Linked DNA regions of Homo sapiens: region 1 is linked to region 2. The links come from fine-mapping of genetic effects on gene expression. Tissue or cell type: monocytes after Pam3CSK4. Region 2 holds a variant in brackets; the other region holds the start of a gene. All regions are shown on one strand. Distances are between the middles of the regions.

The links. PIP is the estimated chance that this variant, and not a neighbour inherited with it, causes the effect.
Region 1: it holds the start of BTBD1, and the variant in region 2 is fine-mapped to the expression of BTBD1 in monocytes after Pam3CSK4 (Quach 2016, PIP 0.95).

The regions. Positions count from the first base shown.
Region 1 is chr15:83,061,526-83,070,782 of GRCh38, forward strand. BTBD1 (BTB domain containing 1) reads right to left here and starts at 5,727. Exons shown (of 8, transcript NM_025238.4): 1 at 5,226-5,727. The coding sequence starts at 5,626. MIR4515 (microRNA 4515) reads left to right here and starts at 5,810; the gene lies at 5,810-5,890. LOC124903542 (a long non-coding RNA gene) reads left to right here. Exons shown (of 2, transcript XR_007064742.1): 2 at 1-320. RefSeq lists silencers at 5,045-5,214, 5,455-5,934, 7,811-7,860 and enhancers at 5,995-6,114, 6,125-6,174, 7,612-7,906.
Region 2 is chr15:83,040,860-83,051,591 of GRCh38, forward strand. It overlaps BTBD1 (BTB domain containing 1), which reads right to left. Exons shown (of 8, transcript NM_025238.4): 3 at 9,214-9,319; 4 at 869-1,066. All of the region lies in intron 1 of LOC124903542 (a long non-coding RNA gene), which reads left to right. It also overlaps the pseudogene FABP5P8. Among named protein-coding and RNA genes, the nearest start is that of BTBD1, 21 kb to the right of the region's middle. The variant A/C (reference allele first, on the strand shown) is at 4,663.

The DNA.
Region 1 (9,257 bases), 20 kb after region 2:
CCCTTGAACCAACAGATTGTGGCAGAGTGACATTGCACCAGTCTGAGACCTACACCTTAAGGATGCCTGGCAGCTCCTGCTTTTGTGTTCCTCGGAGTCATGAGCCACGAAGTCAAGCTACCCTGCTGGAGAGACCAGCTGAAGAAGCCTCTTGAAGAGGACCTGAGACTTAAGGCTCAGCCATCCCAGACTGTGAGTTAAACCTCCAGATGAGTCCAACCCCACCTGCTATCTGACTACAGCTACATAGACGACAAACCACCTAAGTGATTCCAGTCAACCCACACAACTGTAAAAGATAATAAAAGTTGTTTAAGTCACTACGCATTCCAGTGATTTGTTCCACAGCAACAGATAACCAAAACATGCTGTGAGAGATTAATTAGATGAGCCAGTGTGCAATTTTGCCTGTGGGTGGAATTTTTACAGAGGAAGTAAAGCCTGAAGATTATCTGAAGAGTAGTAATTAAGTGTGGAGCCCTGGCAGAAAGACTGAGGAGTACAAAGGTAAGGAGGCCTTAGAAGCAGGCACTAAAACAAGAAAAAGGCCATTAGTAATTAGGGTTGAAACACTGAGTGGATGGAGAGGAGATGAAGAAAGAGAGATCAAATCACAAAGGTTTCATGTACCTGCTAAAGTGTTTAAACATCCTGTAGGTAAAAAGAAGTCATTAAAAGATTCAGGGGAATTATATGACCATATACCAATATTGGAGAGATCACTGTTAACAGGATGAATGGAGAGAGTTAAGTCTAAACGCAGTAGTTTGGTTGAAGCAATGCAGAAAAAAATGGAGAGGCAGGTAAAATTTTCAGGAATGGTCTAAAATGGACAAGAAATGTGTAGAATGGAGTGAAACGAAACTACAATTTGGAGCTAGGCCCATGAAGTCATTTCCTAGCTGACCTACAGAATCATAAGCAAGAATAAATTATTGCTTTTTGGGGGTTGCTTTATTTATAGCATTAATATGGCAAAAGCTATTGCAGGGGGATAAGAAGTATGCCTGTCTCAAAGGATTTTCCTGAAATTTAAGTGAGATCACAAAGGGGCTTAGGAACAATCTATGGCACACAGTAAAAGTACTCATTAAATGTCAGATATTTTCATTAATAACATGTCCATCTGCATGGGTATAAAACATTACTTCACGATGGTCCAGTTGGAAATGAGGGTCTGGAGCTAAGTAGAGCTTTGGAGACACATGTGGGGGAATGAGTGCGTAAAGCTCTCACTTTGGTTGATGGGAGAAAGGATGAGAGCTGAGGACTGAATACTGAAGAACACTTACCTCGTGCCCCTTCCAGCCATCACGTCATTCTCTGTTCCCCTTTGCAACAAAACTCCTGAGAGGACTGTTTATACTGTCTCCAGCTCCTCACTTCCCATTTTCTGCCTAACCTACTCTAATCAGCTGAAATCACTCTTGGCAGGGTTATCGATAGCTTCCACCTTGTCAAGATTAAAAATCAACTCAAAGTCTTCATTATACCTGACTCTCAATAGCATTGAGCATAACTGACCACTTTCCACTTTCCATAGTTGACATTTCCCACTTCTTCTTTCTTGAAATGTTTTGACTTGACTTTCAGAATATAATGCTCCTTCTTTCTCTTCTAATTCCACTGACAGCTGCTTCTCAGTTTCATTTTATGCTTTTTCTCTGCTACATCTCTACATATTTGAAGATTCCAGAGCTCATCCTTGTACCTCTCTTCACAGTCTACATGCCTTCCTAGGTAATCTCACTTGATCTCTCGATTTAAATACCATTCACTCTTAACTTGCAAATTTATGTTCAGCAAGCTGTTCCCTCACCTCCAAATTCATATTTCTGTCTACTCTATGACACTACTTGGATGTCTTGGAAGTCCTCTTGGTTGTACCTTCAAAAATATATCCAGAATTTGACCATGTCTCATCATGTCCTTTGCTACCTCCCTGGTACAAGGTACAATTCACCATCGCCTCTTGCCTGGACTACTGCAAAAGCCTCTTCATCTATCACCTTGCTGCCTATTTTACTCCAACCACTGCCAGAAAGAGTTTGTTTTTTTAAAATGTAAATCAGATCACAACCTCCTGCCACCACCTCCGCCTCCCCAATCTCATTCAAAACTCTCCAAAGGCTTTCCATCAAATACCAGCTGAAAAAGTCTTCGCTCAGTCTCTAAAGCCCTGCACCATCCTGTCTGGCCTATCTTTTTGACCTCATTTTCTACCACTTCCCTCTACTGTGCTTAAGGCACACTGGTTCACTCTTGTGTTCCTCCAACAGGAGATACTTAGTGCCGAAAACAATGCGTTCCCTTGCTGAGAATGTTCCTTCTCTCATAACTTGATTATTTTTCTTCAAAACATTCATCAGTACTTGACATTGTATCTTTAGTTTCCCTTTACTAGATTATGTGCTTCATGAGGGCAAGGACTTTTTCTTGTTTATTGCTGTGTCCCAAACACCTACAACAGCCATTCGCTGTTTCACAAGCGCCCCAAAAGGGAGGCATATAGTATTTGTCAAACAACTGAAGAACATCATTTAAAGGTCAGGCAGTTCAAAGTGCACAGTTTCTTTAAGGGCTTCAAACTTAAGTTCATGAGCCTGTAAGTAATGTTAACTAATTCAGGATGTTTACAAGTATGCCCAAACTAACCTGCTCTTCCAACTTAGCAAGTACTATCAGGCATCTTTTTGTCACGTATTAGCTAACAACAACATCTACGTTACACAGCCAGCCAAAATTAAATTTAGAAATCAGTCCAGATATCAATTTCAAAATAGAACAATGACCAGAACCTGAAGGATAAATACAATGCTAGGAAAATAAAACACACTGAAAATGTAAAAATGAAAAAAAAGTTTAAAAATGTAAAAAATGTTTTACAATGTGAAAAAAAAAATTGCACTGTCCTACATTTCAAACACTCTAAAATTAACTTACTTTCTATTGATGGGAAAGCACTAATTAGCAGCTTCGGTGAAAATATTAAAATATGTATTTTTCCTCTACATTCTTATCCTAGTAATCTCAATATTTTTTCAAAGTAAAAAATTGCCCCAAAATAGTTTTAGATTTGTGGTTCTTAAATTTAGTTTGTATAAGTATCACTTAGGGAGAGTGTTAAAAATGCTACCAAGGTCTCACCTCCAAATATTACGGTATATAATGAGGATGAGATCTACACATTTCATAAGCACCCCAGAAGATTATAATGCAGACGGCCCACAGATCATTTTGAAAACTACTTCTAGTCTAGAAAATCCAAATGAACTATACCCAATCCTCCTGGTGAACTTTAAACTAAAATGACCTGGATTTTAGCTTTTGAGGTCCCCCCCCTTTATAAATGTAACTGAACTAAATTACAGAAAATATCAGAAACAAAGAATAAAGAAGAAAAAAAGGTACTTTCATCTCACTACTCCAGGTGACTTTGCTTAGCATTTTGGTATGTTTCCTTTTATCCCGGTCTCTAGGTATATGTTTGTTCCATGTCTTTTCACGTTGTAACCATGGTGCAGTTTCAAGTGCTATCCGTCATATTTAGTGACTGCATTATATCTCATCAAGTGAACCTACCACTGTTTAACCATTCCCTACAGCTGACTACTTCCTCACTACTATAAATAAAGCTGTAAATATTTTTGTATGCAATTTGCAATACTTGAATGCTTCTTACGTGTGGAAAGAAAATCTATAGCACCAAACTGTTTTCCAAAAGGGTTTTTACCACCATCTTTGTCAGAAAATGCTGTTCAGATGTTACCTTTAAATTTTTTGGTGGGATTAATGGAAGGAAAAAATACCACTGTCTTTTAATTTGCACTTCCTAATTACCAGCCAGGTAAAACATTCGTTAATTAGTTGTATTTTTTCTTTCTCTAAGTTATCTATCCTGTCCTTTATCCATTCGTCAATGGAATCTTATTATTTGTTTCTAGTTGTGTGAACTTTACATTCATTTTCTTGTTCATCTTTCTGATTCAACTGTGAACCTTTGTATCTAATTCTGTCCCACTGACCTGCCTGTTTTTGCTTCAGTACTACCCAAGACTCTGCCATTTTAATAACAACACGTTCTACTCAGGCAGCTATTTAAAACCATCTTAGTATAATGAAACAGACATGGTCTTCAGTGTGAGTTAGCTGTTTGTTACCTTGGGCAAGATACTTGACTCTTCTGGGCCTCAGTCCCATTTGTGAAATTGGGGTAAACAATTCTTACGCCTCCCTAACAGGATGGCTGTGATTAAAAGCTAGTAATGCCAAACAATCACCTTTTCATTAGATGTCAATCTACTATCCTCAAATAACCAACAAGCAAATTCTAACATCAAGGGAGGGATTCATTTATAAGCAAATGTGACCTTGTGTGTAGAAACACAAAGCAGGTAAAGCCTCACTTGTCTGTTTTCGTATTTACTTTCCTGGGTCTTGACAACTAATACGTTAATGAAAAACAAAAACAAAAACAAAAAAGTGGCCAGGCGCGGTGGTTCACGCCTGTAATCCCAGCACTTTGGGAGGCCGAGGTGGACGGATCGCTTGACCCCAGGAGTCCGAGACCAGCCTGGGCAACATAGTGAAACCCTCTCTCTACCAAAAATAAAAATAAAAAAAATTAGCCGGGCGTGGTGGCGCGTGCCTGTAGTCCCAAATACTCGGGAGGCTGAGGTCGGAGCATCACCTGAGCCCGGAGAGGTCGAGGCTGCAGTGAGCCATGATCGCGCTACAGCATTCCAGCCTGGGCAACAGAGCAAGACCTTGTCTCAAAAAAAGCGGGGGGAAGGGGGTGACAATAACCCCAAAACATCAGTCCTGCAAGATTTTTCAACTACTCTCTTCCCCCAAACAAAAACATAAAACTTCGCAAATGGGCAATCAGGACAACCTGATCTGCCCCTCTATCCTTGCCACTTGTCTAATTCTGAAGTCTGAGCGACAATCCATAATTGGAATGCGAAACGCCTTTCAATGGTAAAACGCACGCTTGCCTAATGAAGACACTAACGTTTAGTTGGCGACTGAGCCGTCCTGGTTCACAGATTTCGATTTCGACCCTCCGGAGCATCAACGGCTCGGGAGGAAACTGAGGCCCCGGGCGGGTCAGAAGAGCCCAGCCCAAGGTCATCCGGGAGTCCGGGTAGGCCGGGCCCCGGGGATCTCCCAGCCCGGCCCGGCCCGGCCCGGCCCGGCCCGGCCCGGCCCGCGCTGCCGCTCACCTCAGCAGCGCCAGGAAGGCTGCGGGCTCCACGTCCGGCAGCTCGATCTCGGCCGACGTGGTGGCCATGCCGCCGTTGAACATGGCGTCAAAGACGGCGCTGCCGGCCGCCAGCACGAAGCGGTGGGCGGGGATGCGCTGCGGGCCCCCAGCGGCGGCGGCGCCGCGACCCTTGCCCAGTACGAAGCGCACATCGCTCAGCAGCTCCGAGTTGAAGAGGAAGGCGAAGCGCTCCTTCAGCGACGCCTTGGTCGCCTGCCAGTTGTAGAGAGGTTCCCGCTGCAGGGGGAGCAGGGGCCCCAGAGAGGACGGTGAGGGCGGCGGCGGCGGCCCCGCGGGGCCCGGCTCCGCCTCAGCCCCCGACGCCTGCTCCCCAGCTGCGGCAGGCCCGAGTGAGGCCATCCTCCAGCTGCGCGGTTGCCCACGTTATGGACAAAACTCCGCCGCCATCGCCCAGGCCGCCTCCGGAGGCCGGCGCTGCCTCCCTGCCTTCCGGGAAAGGCGCTTCCGGGGGCCTCGCGCCTCCGCAGGCCCCTCCCTGACCGCGCGCGCCCCCGCACGCCCGGGTTGCCGCTGTGCGCGGCCGCGGGAGGTGTAACAGGACTGGACTCCCGGCAGCCCCAGGGCAGGGGCGTGGGGAGCTGGTCCTAGCTCAGCGCTCCCGGAGGTGGAGCTTCTGCAGGCTGGGTGCTGCCGGGCCTACGGGCACCCACCCCCTGGCTCAGTGCCCTGGGTATTCTGACTCAGTAGGTCTGGGGTAGGGCCTGAGAATTTGTAATTTTAAGATGCATCGTGGATCTGCAGGCGGCTCTCACGGCTGCCTTTTTCTTCCTGCAGGCCCCTTATCACCAAGTCCAGCGCCCCCATTGTGTATCTGGGACATGTCCCAAGGCCTGTCCCGAGGAGTGTTTTGCCTGGAAGTGGAGGGGCAGGAAAGTATGGCCAAGGGAACACGTGAGGGAGGGGATGACATGACTTCCCACAACCCTGTACCCCAAGCGTGGCCAAGTCGCCGCTCCAGAAGGCCGCGAAACCCGTGGAAATTCCGGAAGCAGAGGTGGAAGGCTTAGAACCCCAGTGACCTCTCCCCAGGTCCGCAGGTCCCTTTCCCTTCTAATTGACCCTTTGGTTCCGTCCTCTGGGCCTAAGAGACATTTCCTTCTACTGCTTCCACCCCTGTATTTGAAACCCCTCGTGCTTGCCCACCTTCTCTTGTAGCGCTTTTCAGTCCTTGCACTGAACCACTGCCTAAGCTTGAAATTTAAAAAATTAAAAACTAAAACACACACACAATGGAAAAGGCTGTATTATCCCTTCCCAGGCAGTATTTACAACCCGGTCATCATGATTGGGGGACCGAGGCCTTCCTTTTTCTCCCTTCAGTGAGGCAGGCCCTGAGTTAAGTCAGCTGTCAAAAGCAGAACGTAGAAAACCCAAGAAATAGTCCTTGACCAGGCACGTATAGTTGGAAACACCTGTTCTTTGCAGGAAGAGCCTTACAGATTACAAATGCCGTCAAGTAAATAGTAAACCCCAAACCTGGGTTTCTCCTGTAAAATCACTCCACTTGTGAAACCACCAGAGGGGACTTCCAGCTGTTAGGCATTTAGAATGGTAACTTCTTTGGGAGAGGAACGTGCTTGGGAAGAGACTTAAAGTAGTAGGGGCTGAAATAGTGGATGCACAACCCCTTCCCCATTGCCAGCCGGCAATTCCTAAAGACAAAGGGACATCATGCTACTAATGATACCATTATCACACCTAACAAAATTAACCATATCATCAAATCATCTATATATGATTTTTTTTTTTTTGAGACGGAGTCTCGCTCTGTTGCCAAAGCTGGAGTGCAATGGCATGAAGTCTGCCTTCCGGGCTCAAGCGATTCTCCTCCTCAGCCTCCCGAGTAGCTGGGGTTACAGGTGCGTGTCACCACATCCAGCTAATTATTTGTATTTTTAGTAGAGACGGGGTTTCACCATATTGGCCAGGCTCCTCTCCAAGTCCTGACCTCGTGATCTACCCGCCTCGGCCTCCCAAAGTGCTGGGATTACAGGCATGAGCCACCAGGCCTGGTCCTATGTATAATATTTAATGTACAGTTAATATTTGTTTCTCCACTTGTCTCTAAAAAAATTTTTTTTTGAGACGGAGTCTTGCTCTGTTGCCCAGGCTGGAGGGCAGTGGCATGATCTCCGCTCACTGCAAGCTCTGCCTCCCACGTTCACGCCATTCTCCTGTCTCAGCCTCCCGAGTAGCTGGGACTACAGGCACCTGCCACCAAGCCTGCTGATTTTTTTTTTTTTTTGTATTTTTAGTGTGTCCAGAGTTCGTTCCTTCTGGTGGGTTCGTGGTCTTGCTGACTTCAAGAATGGAGCTGTGGACCTTCCTGATGAGTTTTATAGCTCTTAAGATGGCAGGGACCCAAAGACTTCTTCTGAAGAGCAAAAGAACAAAGCCCTTATGTCATGGAAAGGAACCCCAACGGGTGGTTGCAGTCTCTGGGCGTGGGGGCAGGAGGGGAGGGGCCGGCGGGGGTGGGGGGGGTGGAGTCAGCTTTTACTTCCTTATTTGTCCCCGCCCATGTCCTGCTGATTGGTCCATTTTACAGAATGCTGATTGGTGCACTTTACAGAGTGCTGATTGGTCTATTTTACAGGGTGCTGATTGGTCCATTTTACGGAATGCTGATTGGTCCATTTTACAGAGTGCTGATTGGTCCACTTTACAGAGTGCTGATTGGTCCATTTTACAAACCTCTAGCTAGCCACAGAGTGCTGATTGGTGTGTTTTTACAGAGCACTGACTGGCACATTTTACAAACCACTTGTAAGACAGAAAAGTTCTTCAAGTCCTCACCCTACCCAGAAGTCCAGTTGGCTTCACCTGTCATTAGTAGAGACGGGGTTTCACCGTGTTAGCCAGGATGGTCTCAATCTACTGACCTTATGATCTGCCCACCTTGGCCTCCCAAAGTGCTGGGATTACAGGCATGAGCCACTGTGCCTGGCCAAAAATATCTTTCACAGATGACTTTTTTTCCAATCCAGGATCAAATCAATGTTCACATATTATTGACTGTGTTGACTTCTTTGAAGGTCCGGGGAATTGTGGAGTATAATGCTCCACAATCTGGATTTGTCTGGTGGATTCTGTATGATTCATGGTTAGATTCCAGGTTAAACATTTTAGGCAAGAATATGCTGGTGATGTTAAGTACTTCATTGCCTCACTTCAGAAAGCGTATGTTGGTGATGCTAAGCTTGATGACCTGGTGAGGCTGTGACTGTCAGATCCCTCCATTATGAAGGTGTATGATTCTTATGTAATAAGTAATCCATGAGGGTGATGCTCTGAGACTGTTTGACCAGTCTGTTTCCCCAAAAAGCTTTCACCTACTGATTTCAGTATCCATTGATGATTCAGAAAATTAATTCACTTACTACTTTTAAGTGTCATCCCAGGTATTCTAATGCAGGCCTTTCATAGATCACACTCTATAGTATACTATACTAGCTAGTTTAAAAGGAAAGAGATTAAAAAACATAGAATTGGACATAAGAAAGGATATATAAACATAATTGTGGAGTTTAAAAATATGAGTAATTCTATTAGTGGCTTTGAAAATATCAAAGGAATGTACTCGTCTAGAAAACCTGGACAATTCAATTATCTATACAGGACATTAAAACTTTCAAAATAATAACCTTCAGGGAAGACTGGTTCCAGATGAGCTCGTTAAACATGTTATTATTGTTTTAAAGGAAATGTTTAAAATAATACATGTTTGTTATAGAAGTAAGTAGACTTCCAGTTTCAGCCATAATGTACCAACTTGTCTAACCCTCCCACCAAAAACAACTATACAAGCTGGAGTGTGTGTGTGTGTGTGTGTGTGTGTGTGTGTGTGTAAACAACTGTTTGAAGGCATTGTTAAAGAAAAAAATTATTCTGGGCTGTTGCAGTGGCGCACGCCTGTAATCCCAGCACTTTGGAAGGACAAGGCAGGCAGATCACCTGAGGTTAGGGTTTG
Region 2 (10,732 bases):
GCATCGACCTTAAGAGTCAAACAGAGGCTGGGCGTGGTGGCTTACACCTGTAATCCCAGCACTTTGGGAGGCTTGAGCCCAGGAGTTCAAGACCAGCCCTGACAGGATGGTGAAATCCTGTCTCTATAAAAAAAATTAAAAAATTAGCTGAGCATGGTAGTGTGCACCTATAGTCCCTGCTATTTGGGAGGCTGAGGTGGGAGGATTGATTGAGCCTGGGAGGTGGAGGCTTCAGTGAAATGCGTTTGTGCCACGGCACTCCAGCCTGGGTAACAGAGGAAGACTCTGTCTCAAAAAAAGAAAAAAAAGAAAAAAAAAAAAAGCCAAAAAGATCTGTCATAACCTGGGGTAAGGCACTCAACCTCTCCCAACTTTACTTCTCTAACCTATACAATGTGGATAATATAATTTTGAAGGGCTTAAAATCATACACTCGCATATATGTTTGTCATGTGATTAGTACTGAATAAAAGCTTCTTTTCCTCTCTGGCGCAGGGAGACTGATAGAATTTTTTTTTTTTTTTGAGATGGAGTCTCGTGGAATCTCGCTCTGTCGCCCGGGCTGGAATGCAACGGCATGATCTCGGCTCACTGCAACCTCCGTCTCCTGGGTTCAAGCGATTCTCCTGCCTCAGCCTCCTGAGTAGCTGAGATTACAGGTGCCCACCACCATGCCTAATTTTTTGTACTTTTAGTAGAGACGGGGTTTTACCATGTTGACAAGGCTGGTGTCGAACTCCTGTCCTCAAGTGATCCACCTGCCTTGGCCTCTCGAAAGTGCTGGGATTATAGGTGTGAGCCACCAGGCCCAGCCCTGACAGACTATTAAAACAGTTTCAAATAGATTTTGGTGAATTTATACCCTTACCTGCTGCAAATTCCTCAATTGTCATCAGTGGGAACCGGATTAAGGAAAGTGCTTTTCCTAGAACTTTTTGTTTATTCCCAAAAGTCACAGGTAATTGTTGTCTCTGACATTCTGCTTCTGCCCAGCGTACAACAGCTCCAAAAAGTCGACTTTCTCGAATACTGAGTGTGTCTCTCTCTAAAACTGCACAGAGTGTATCTATAGGCAAAATACAAAATAAACCCAATTAGAAATATTTTAGCTCTCTAACCAAGCAATACCAACAGACACACTTATATTAAGTTTTCAGATCTCAACAAAAAATAGGTTAGACACTTAAAACTACAGACTTTATACTTTAAAATACTAAATAATTAAAGGACTTAAACTCCAAAGTGTTCCATAAAAATCAGTTTAACAATCAATTTATTACTTACCATACATGCAATATTAAGATACAGTACTCTCCTTATATATTTATGCCATTTATCAAGTAAACTCAACTATCCAGAATAAGATTAACAAGCCACAGAAAAAGGTTCCAATTACATAAATTCTTAAAGTCTACAGATTATAATTCATTCGTTCATTCAGTAAATATTTATTATTAAGCACTACGTGCCAGGTACTATTAGGCAATTTTATATATATATATATATATATATATATATGTATGTATATATTTTGGATATAGAGTCATAGAGTCTCATTCTGTTGCTCAGGCTGGAGTGCAGAGGCACAATCTCGGCTCAATGCAACCTCTGCCTCCTAGGTTCAAGCAATTCTCCTGCCTCAGCCTCCTGGGTAGCTTGGATTACTGGCACGGGCCACCACACCTGGCTAATTTTTATATTTTTAGTAGAGACAGGGTTTCACCATGTTGGCCAGCCTGGTCTCAAACTTCCGACCTGAAGTGATCTGCCTGCCTCGGCCTTCCAAAGTGCTGGGATTACAGGCGTGAGCCACCGCGCCCAGCCAGCACTGATATATCACTGAACAAAAAGTTAAAAATTCCTGCCCTCATGGAGCTTACATTCTAATGAGGAGAAACAGATTAAATAAACACAAGTAAATTCGAGTATCTTAGATGATATACATGGGCAAATATGTCAGGTTAAGGAGAATCAGAAATGCAGTTTAAAATAGGAAGGGGCCAGGCATGGTGACCCATGCCAGTAGTCCCAGCAATTTAAGAGGCTGAGACAGGAGCATGGCTTGAGCCCAGGAGTTTCAGGCCAGCCTGGGCAATATAGTGAGACCCCATCTCTACAAAAAAGTTTTTAAAAATTAGCCAGGCATGGTGGCATGCACTTGTAGTCTCAGCTACTCAGGAGGCTGAGACAGCAGGATCACTCGAGCCTGGGAGGTTGCAGGCTGCAGTGAGCCATGATCATGCCATTGTACTCCAGCCCAGGCAACAGAGTGAGACTGTGCCAAAAAATAATAAAATAAAATAAAATCGGGTGGTTTAGGCAGGCTTCACTTATGCCAAGACATGAAGGAAGTGGGGGAGTAAGCCAAATAGATACCTAGAGGAATAGTATTCCAGGACTAAAAGTACAAAGGCTCTCATATTAAAGTGTGCCTGGCATATCTGAGGAATGGTAAGGAGGCCAACGTGGTGGAGTGGAGTGAGCAGGAGGGAAGAGTAGCAGGCAAGGAGGCCAGAGGCTGTGGGGAGAGGGGGCAATCATGCAGCACCCTGTAGATCATTTGGCTTTTACTCTAAGTGACATGGAGAATGCCTGGAGGATTCTGAGTTGTCACATTTTATGTTCTGAAAGGATCACCCTGGCTTCTGTGTTGAGAAGAGGCTATAGTGAAGACAATATCAGTTGGAGGCTCTTGCATCGATCCAGGTCAGGGATGGTGGCCTGGACAAGGAGGGTAGCAGTGGAAGTGGTGAAAATTGATCATATTTGGAACATATTCTGAAGGAAGACTCAATTAGATTTCCTAACAGATTGGATGTGAGGTGTGATTTAAAGAGAGGAGTCAAGAATAACTGCAAGGTTTATATAGCTTATGCACTGGAGGGATGAGGGTGGCATCAACCAAGATGGGAAAGACCACAGGAGGTGCAGGTTTGGGGTGGGGAAAGAGCTGAAGTTTCATTTTAGACATACTAAGTTTGAAATTCCTATTTGACATCCAAGTATAAACGTCATGCCTGTACCTCAGGTCCTCACTCAGAACCCTTTTCCTCTTATGATAGGCAAAATTAAAATAAGCTCAGTTACTTTTAAGTTCTAACAGCCCAGAAGCAATAAGTTCAGAAGAGAAAGGGGCTTTAGAGGCTAATATACTAGAATGAAATGATAAACTGCAATCTAACAGGGATAGAGAAAAGAGGAAATTTGTGAAAAGAAGACGTTAAGCACTTGAAAAGAATAGCTATCAAGGGTCTTATAGAGTTTTTTAAAAAAACAACACTTCACAGACCTGAGGGCTTCACTGTACAATAATAATGTAACTGATACTTAGTGAGCATTAATAATCACAAGAATCCTAAATTATATCCAGTACATATTGTTTAATATAGGCAGGTAAAATAAAACATTTTAGATTTCTCAAAGGGTCAAAATAAATACCCCAGTTCGACAGCAAGCTGCCCACGCCGACGGCAACCCTGCTCTGCATGCCCGCCCGCCCGTGCCCACCATGGCCACAGTTCAGCAGCTGGGAGGAAGATGGCGCCTGGTGGACAGCAAACGCTTTGATGAATACATGAAGGAGGAGGAGTGGGAACTGCTTTGCGAAAAATGGACGCAATGGCCAAGCCAGATTGTATCATCACTTGTGATGGCAAAAACCTCACCATAAAAACCGAGAGCACTTTGAAAACACAGTTTTCTTGTACCCTGGGAGAGAAGTTTGAAGAAACCACAGCTGATGGCAGAAAAACTCAGACTGTGTGCAGCTTTGCAGATGGTGCATTGGTTCAGCATCAGGAGTGGGATGGGAAGGAAAACACAATAACAAGAAAACTGAAAGATGGGAAATTAGTGGTGTACTGTGTCATGAACAATGTCGCCTGTACTCGGATCTATGAAAAAGTAGAATAAAAATTCCATCATCACTTTGGACAGGAGTTAACTAATAGAATGATCAAGCTCAGTTCAATGAGCAAATCTCCATAGTGTTTTTTTTCATTACTGTGTTCAATTATCTTTATCACAAACGTTTCACATGCAGCTATTTCAAAGTGTCTTGGATTAATTAGGATCATCCCTTTGGTTAATAAATAAATGTGTTTGTGCTAATAAAAAAATAATAAATACCCCAGTTCCTAAAAAACGACACTTCTAGATGGATAGGAAAATCTCTAAAGAACCTAGATAAAACAGGCACTTCTATGAAATATCTAATAGTTATACTTTAAATTAAATTTAAATAAAAATGAGTATGCTATAGTTACAGCAGAAATCAATTAAAGCATTAAATATGATTACATTATCCATAAATACATATCAGATAAACATTTCTTTAAATACTATTCTACAATATGGGCAGGCACAGTGGCTCACTCTTGTAATCCCAGCACTTTGGGAGGCCGAGGAGAGTGATCACCTGAGGTCAGGAGTTCGAGACCACCCTGGCCAACAGGATGAAACCCCATCGCCACAAAAAATACAAAAGTTAGCAGGGCGTGGTGGCAGGTGCCTGTGTAATCCCAGCTACTCGGGATGCTGGGGTCAGGAGAATCGCTTGAACCCGGGAGGCGGAGGCTGCAGTGAGTCAAGATCACGCCACTGCACTCCAGCCTGGGTGACAAGAGCAAAACTCTGCCTCAAAAAAACAAACAAACAAACAAA[A/C]AAAAACTTTTCTGCAATGGTCTACACATGCTAAGAGCCAAATATTTGCTTAATATCAAACATAAGTAATATCCTAGCAAAGGTATCATAGTCCCAAGAACACAGGAGAGGCTTAATACCATGTTAAAAATAAACTGGTTACACATAATTTTTTTTAAAAATCAAACTTTAGTATCTCTTATTGTAGCTGAGCAGATGAGTATAAACTATGGCACCACGAAGCCCTTTCATAAGTAAATTAAATGCAATCAATATGACACAACCATTTGATGGAAAACCAGAAGACTTTGAACCTACATGTCTCCACTTGGTATGCTAATAACTTCCGCAGAGATAAACACATAAACTTTATTACTAAAAAAAAAAGCACATCATACTACCCTTGGTGTAAATTCATTTTGTTCTATCAACATGATAAATTATCTTCTTCCTTTAGCAAAAGGCTGTAAGAAACAGTATCTCTTCCTCCAGAACACATATTCAAATCCCGGAGGAGAAAAAACATCCTGAGAATATAAGACAGCTATAAAAAGCTCCTGAAGCCAGCCCTTTCTTTCAGCTCCCAGTCTTCTCTTGAATTACCAATTTTTGGGGCTAGGCATAATAGTTCACACCTGTAATCCCAGCACTTTGGGAGGCTGAGGCGGGCAGATGGCTTGAGCACAGGAGTTCGAGACCTACCTAGGCAACATGGCGAAACCCCGTCTCTACCAAAAAAAACAAAAATAATAATAATAACTGATAAAAAATGTTTTTTAATTAATTACCAATTTTTAACAAGTACATTTGAAACAAACTAGTCTATGGGGTAGAAAGACAAACACATAGGTCTTCTACTGGCAGATGTGTTAAAGTACGAAGTTAAAGCTGAGAACCAAATAAAGATCAGAAAAACACAGCAGATTGTTTCATAAATATTAACACAATACTGAGTTTTCAAATAAACAACTGTGAGTCAAATCAAATGACCAAATATTTATTGGCTTCTACCCTGTACAAGGCACATACTTCAAGATTCCCAGGCTCCAACGGCATGCATAATTTAAGAGCAATTTATAAGGTGTAAGTTACCCAGATGCAGGCAGTAATGCTTCAAATGAGAACACACTGAAGAACAAATGAAGCATCTGACAGCTACCCTAACAGGGAGGAAATCTTAGGATTAAGCAATGTTTCATTAACAACTTGGGCAGTGTTTAGGGCTCTCAAATATCCAGTACTCAACAGACACCACATGCAGGTGCTGGGGAGGAATCTGATTTACTCCCCGTCCTTCAGTATATTATAAGCAGTGTATTATTTGTTCCCAAGGTACTGTGCAATACATCAACTAACAACAGGATGTTAGAACAGAGGAATATAACAAGTATCATGGACGAGGGTGGGGTATCAGCTCCCAAAAAATGAGTCATATGGAAGTGTTATTTTAGCCAAGATCTTAAGACTATGTGAGAGCCAGCCAAGATGGGAAGAAAAAGCATTATTCTAGACACAGCCAGTCAGTCCAGTTAATCAACAAATATCAGCTGAACATGTACTATATTCTTCTGTCTTTGGTGCTAGTGATAGAGTTGTACACGAGACAAAGTCCCTGCCTTCAAGGAGTTTACAATTTAGGAGAGAAAAGTAAACAATCAACATATATATACAGAGACAAATACCTAGATAAGACTTTCAGAGAGCAATGTGTATTACAAGGAAAATAAATCAGAGCAAGAGTAATGGAACAGGGATTGCTTAGGGGAACACGGTATCTAATTAAGTAGGTCTGAAGTCTCAGGTCTTCTTTAATCTGAGATGCCAAGATTCAGGGGAAGAAGGATCCTAATCAGAAGGAATAGCAAATACAAAAGAATGGAATATAAATAATCCTGGCCAGCGCATATGGGAATTGAATTAGGGGGAGAATGGTAGGAGACAAAGTCAGATGTAGGTAGTGGCTTCTACCTATTTACCAAAGATGTTTTCTCTTCTTCCTGGGATGTGACTAGTCTGCATCTCCTGGCTTCTCCAAAGTTAGGTGAGATCTTGCAACTGAATGGGACCAATAAAATAACAGCCAAAATGTAGGTGCTATATCAGGGTCAATGCTTTTAATCTGTGGGTATTTTCCCCATCCACACTTTCTCCCATCTGCCAGCAAAACACAGATAATAGCTAGGCTCTAGGGCATGACAGAACAACAAGAACGAACTACCTATTGACTATAATACTCCCTTGGTCTGTTATATGAGCGTGAAATAAACTTCTGTGTTTGAGCCAGTCTGCATTTTTGGGTCTATTTCTTACCACAGCCTGACAAATACAAGGCCTGACTCCACAGGCCTTGTATTACTGTGAGCTTTTATAAGGAATTTAAATTTTATGCAAATGGATGTGGGAAGACACTGGAAGCAAGGAAGTTATATGGGCTGATTTTTTATTTATAAAGATCATTCTGGCTGCCATGTAGAGAATGGAGTGTATGGGAGCAAGACTGCATGAAAGGAGAGACTACAAGAGACCACTGCAATTATCCAGGTGAAAGAGAATGGTGGCTTAGACTAGGTGGTAGCCACGGATATGGTTAAGTAGTGGTCAGATTCAGGATACATATTCAAAGTAGAGCCATGAGCACCTGCTGATAAGACTGCATGTGGGGTATGAGAGAAAGAATAACCAAGAATAACAGGAGTTTTTAGCCCAAGCAATCAGGTTCATGGTGGTGTTGTTAAGGAAGACTGAAAACAGTTGGAAAGGAACAGAAGAGTCCTCACAGACAGCGAGAGGAATCAATGGTTCTCCTTTAGCTGTTCTGTTTCAAATGCCTATAAAATCTCCAAATGAGAATGTCAAGTAGACAGTTGGGTATATGAGTTTGTAGCCCAGAAGACGACAGGGACTGAAGATACGTATTTTGGGTTATCATCATAAAGATAGTATTTAAAGCCACGGGCCTGGATTAGATCTCTCTACTCTCCTACAAGACAAAAGGTACATTGTTAGCCTATCATTAGATGGTCCTCTATCACCTGGCTTTAACCTGCTTTGCACCTCCTTCCTCTTATACACTTCTTCCTGAGGTTCCACTTGCCGCTAATGCCCTCCCCTCTCCACTATCCAAACACAGTAAGTCCTCAACGTATGGGTTCTTGGAAACTGTGACTTCAAATGAAAGTGTCTAACGAAAGCAATTTTACCATGAGCTAACTGATAGAAACAAGAGTTAAGTTCCTATGGCATATTTCTGGTCACAAAAATACCACCAAGCTTCTAAATAAAGACTCAAAGCACTTCTAAATTGAACAGTGAAATAAATGTGAGCTATACATACATTTAAGAAAGATTAATACAGACAAGAAAGAGAATCATTTACCCAATTTTTGGTGAATCAGTGAGTGACAGTGGTCATAGTGGTGGTGGGTTAAATCCAGGAATAAACGTTTACAAAGTGAAAATTTTGAGGAGGACCTCCCACACAACGCAGTTCAAAAGCAAATAACATAGTGGACTTGCCGAGCGCTTTCATACTATGTCATTTATCATCAAACATTTGTATGATTATCATATACTTTACAAATTTTTACTTGATAAATCATTTTCCAATCCACTTATTCCAGTTCAGAGTCTCAGGTGGCCAGAGCTTATCCCAGTGGCTTGGTATAGGCAGGAACCAATCCCACACAGTACATCATTTCATCACAGGGCACACTCACACACACTCTCATTCAGACTGAGGCCATTTCGACACACCAAAGAACCTAAATGCACATCTTTGGGATGTGAGAGGAAACTAGAGTGCCTGGAGAAAACCACGAAGATACAGGAGAACATGTAAACCCTACAGATCGTGGCCCCCGCCAGGCGTCCATTTTTTTCTTATCAACATTATAATGAAACGACATTATTCAAGGACCTACTGTGCTATCCATTCTTTAAGGCTCATATCAGAACCTCCTCTGTCAAAATTTTCCTAACACTACTGCAATTTGAAGTAATCGCACCATTTTCCGGATTTGCATAGTAATTACTTTCTACATATCTAATTTAGAAAAGATAGAAATCACATTTTACCATATGTCCTCTCTTTTTTTTTAATTTTTATTTTAAGTTCAGGGGTACATGTGCAGGTTTGTCACAGAGGTAAACTTGTGTCATCGGGGTTTGCTGTACCGACTATTTCATCACCCAGGTATTAATGCCCTCTCTTCTATTAGCGTTTTAAATCTTAATTTTCAAATATTTGTTCTTTGATTCTCCAATTAGACGTTTCCTTAACAAGACAACTCATCTCTTACTATTTTTTATATTTCCTATGGACCCTAGAATAATGCCATGCATATGATGGGCATTCAATGAATATTTATTTGATTTGAAATCTTTTAACAGGCAATGAGCTAGTTAAGACTTTTAGAAATATTTTCACCAAAACAAAAAAAAGCAAAACTCTTAGAGAGACTTCAATCATTTGGGAAAGCCACTGATTTAAAAATAGCCCCTTCTCCAACAAGGCTGACAAGTAAGGCATTAACTGTACTTAAAATGTAACAATTTACTTCATAGCGAACTTACCTATATCAATATCAGTAAACCCTTCTGCACTTATTGCATCCATTGTGCTTTTGTCTATTGTATCTAGACAAAGACTAGCAAGCTGAGGTTCATCAAATAATCGAGCCTAAACATATAAAGAGATAGTTATTTAACTTTCATAGTTATTTTACCTTCAGACTGTACATATTTGAAATTAATATTGTCAACAGTTATAATTGCTAATTATGTAAAAATATCTACTTAAAATACACGCAATAATGTCTACATATTCTTAAAACTTTTCATTCTACAATCAGAAATGAAAAGCTAAAAATACAAATGCCCTGCTAAGAACAAATTGACATTACCAATACCAATCCTGTTATTTTTATGTGCTTGTGTGTGTGTGTGTGTGTGTGTGTGTGTGTGTGTACAGCCTATATTCTTATACATTACTTATTCTGATCCTTAATGAACCCTTTATGTTAGATAAGGCTTACATTATTATCCCATTTTCAGAGGTTTGGAGAGGTACAGTGACTTGCCTAAGATCATCTAGTTAAGTATGTTGCACAGCTAGTACTTAAATCTTATAGTCTTTTCACTAATTATAATATCAATTGTCAAGCACAACAGTGCAAATATCAGATTTTCTCTTCCATTGCCTGTTTTGATTTTGAGGAGAGAATAGGGTACTAGAATTTTAGAGCATGACAGCTCTGGAAACCTAAGCAAAATTAGGTCTAACAACACAAGAACAAATACATAAAATTCACATGACGGAATATTATACAACAATGAGAATGAACAATCTACAACTACACAAACCAATATAAATGAACCACACAAACCTAATGATGAGCAAAAAAGCCAGAATATATAATGAGCAAGAATATGTACTGTAGAATTCCAGAAGAACTAATTTTGGCTTTAAGATGTTAGAAGTCAAGCTTACAATATGTGCTTTATCAATACATATGTTATAACCCTCCCCCACAAAAAAAAAAAAAACAGTTTATAAGCAGGGGGAGTCCAAGTTAAACTCAAGCAAGATTTTTAAAAAGCTGAAACACTGAAAAAGGAGGTATGATGATAGGCATGCCAATGACCAACCTTTCATTCTGGCCTGGGGTTAGTTCTCTTCACATTTTAGAGGATGGGCAAACACTAAATGCCCAAAGGTATTATGTTGGCTTGGGCAGAAACTTTCTGAGAATACTGCCAATTAGTTAACCATATCATAAATGACACTAATTATTTGGCATGATGATGACTCTTCATTTAATTTTAAAGTAAAATTCATTTTAAAGTATTCAATAATTCAGATACTACTGAACAACTGATAAATATCTAAACAATTATCATGTGTTTTATGGGGGAGAAAAGAAAACATTAAACACACTGGCTTTAAATTTTTTAAATTTAAGTATATTTTAAAAATTATATATATATATATTTTAAGTTTAAAACATTTACATATAACATAAAATATGTATAGAATACTCGAATGTTTGAAAATGCACTTCCTAGATTATACACTGAGCCTGTTTACAATAAT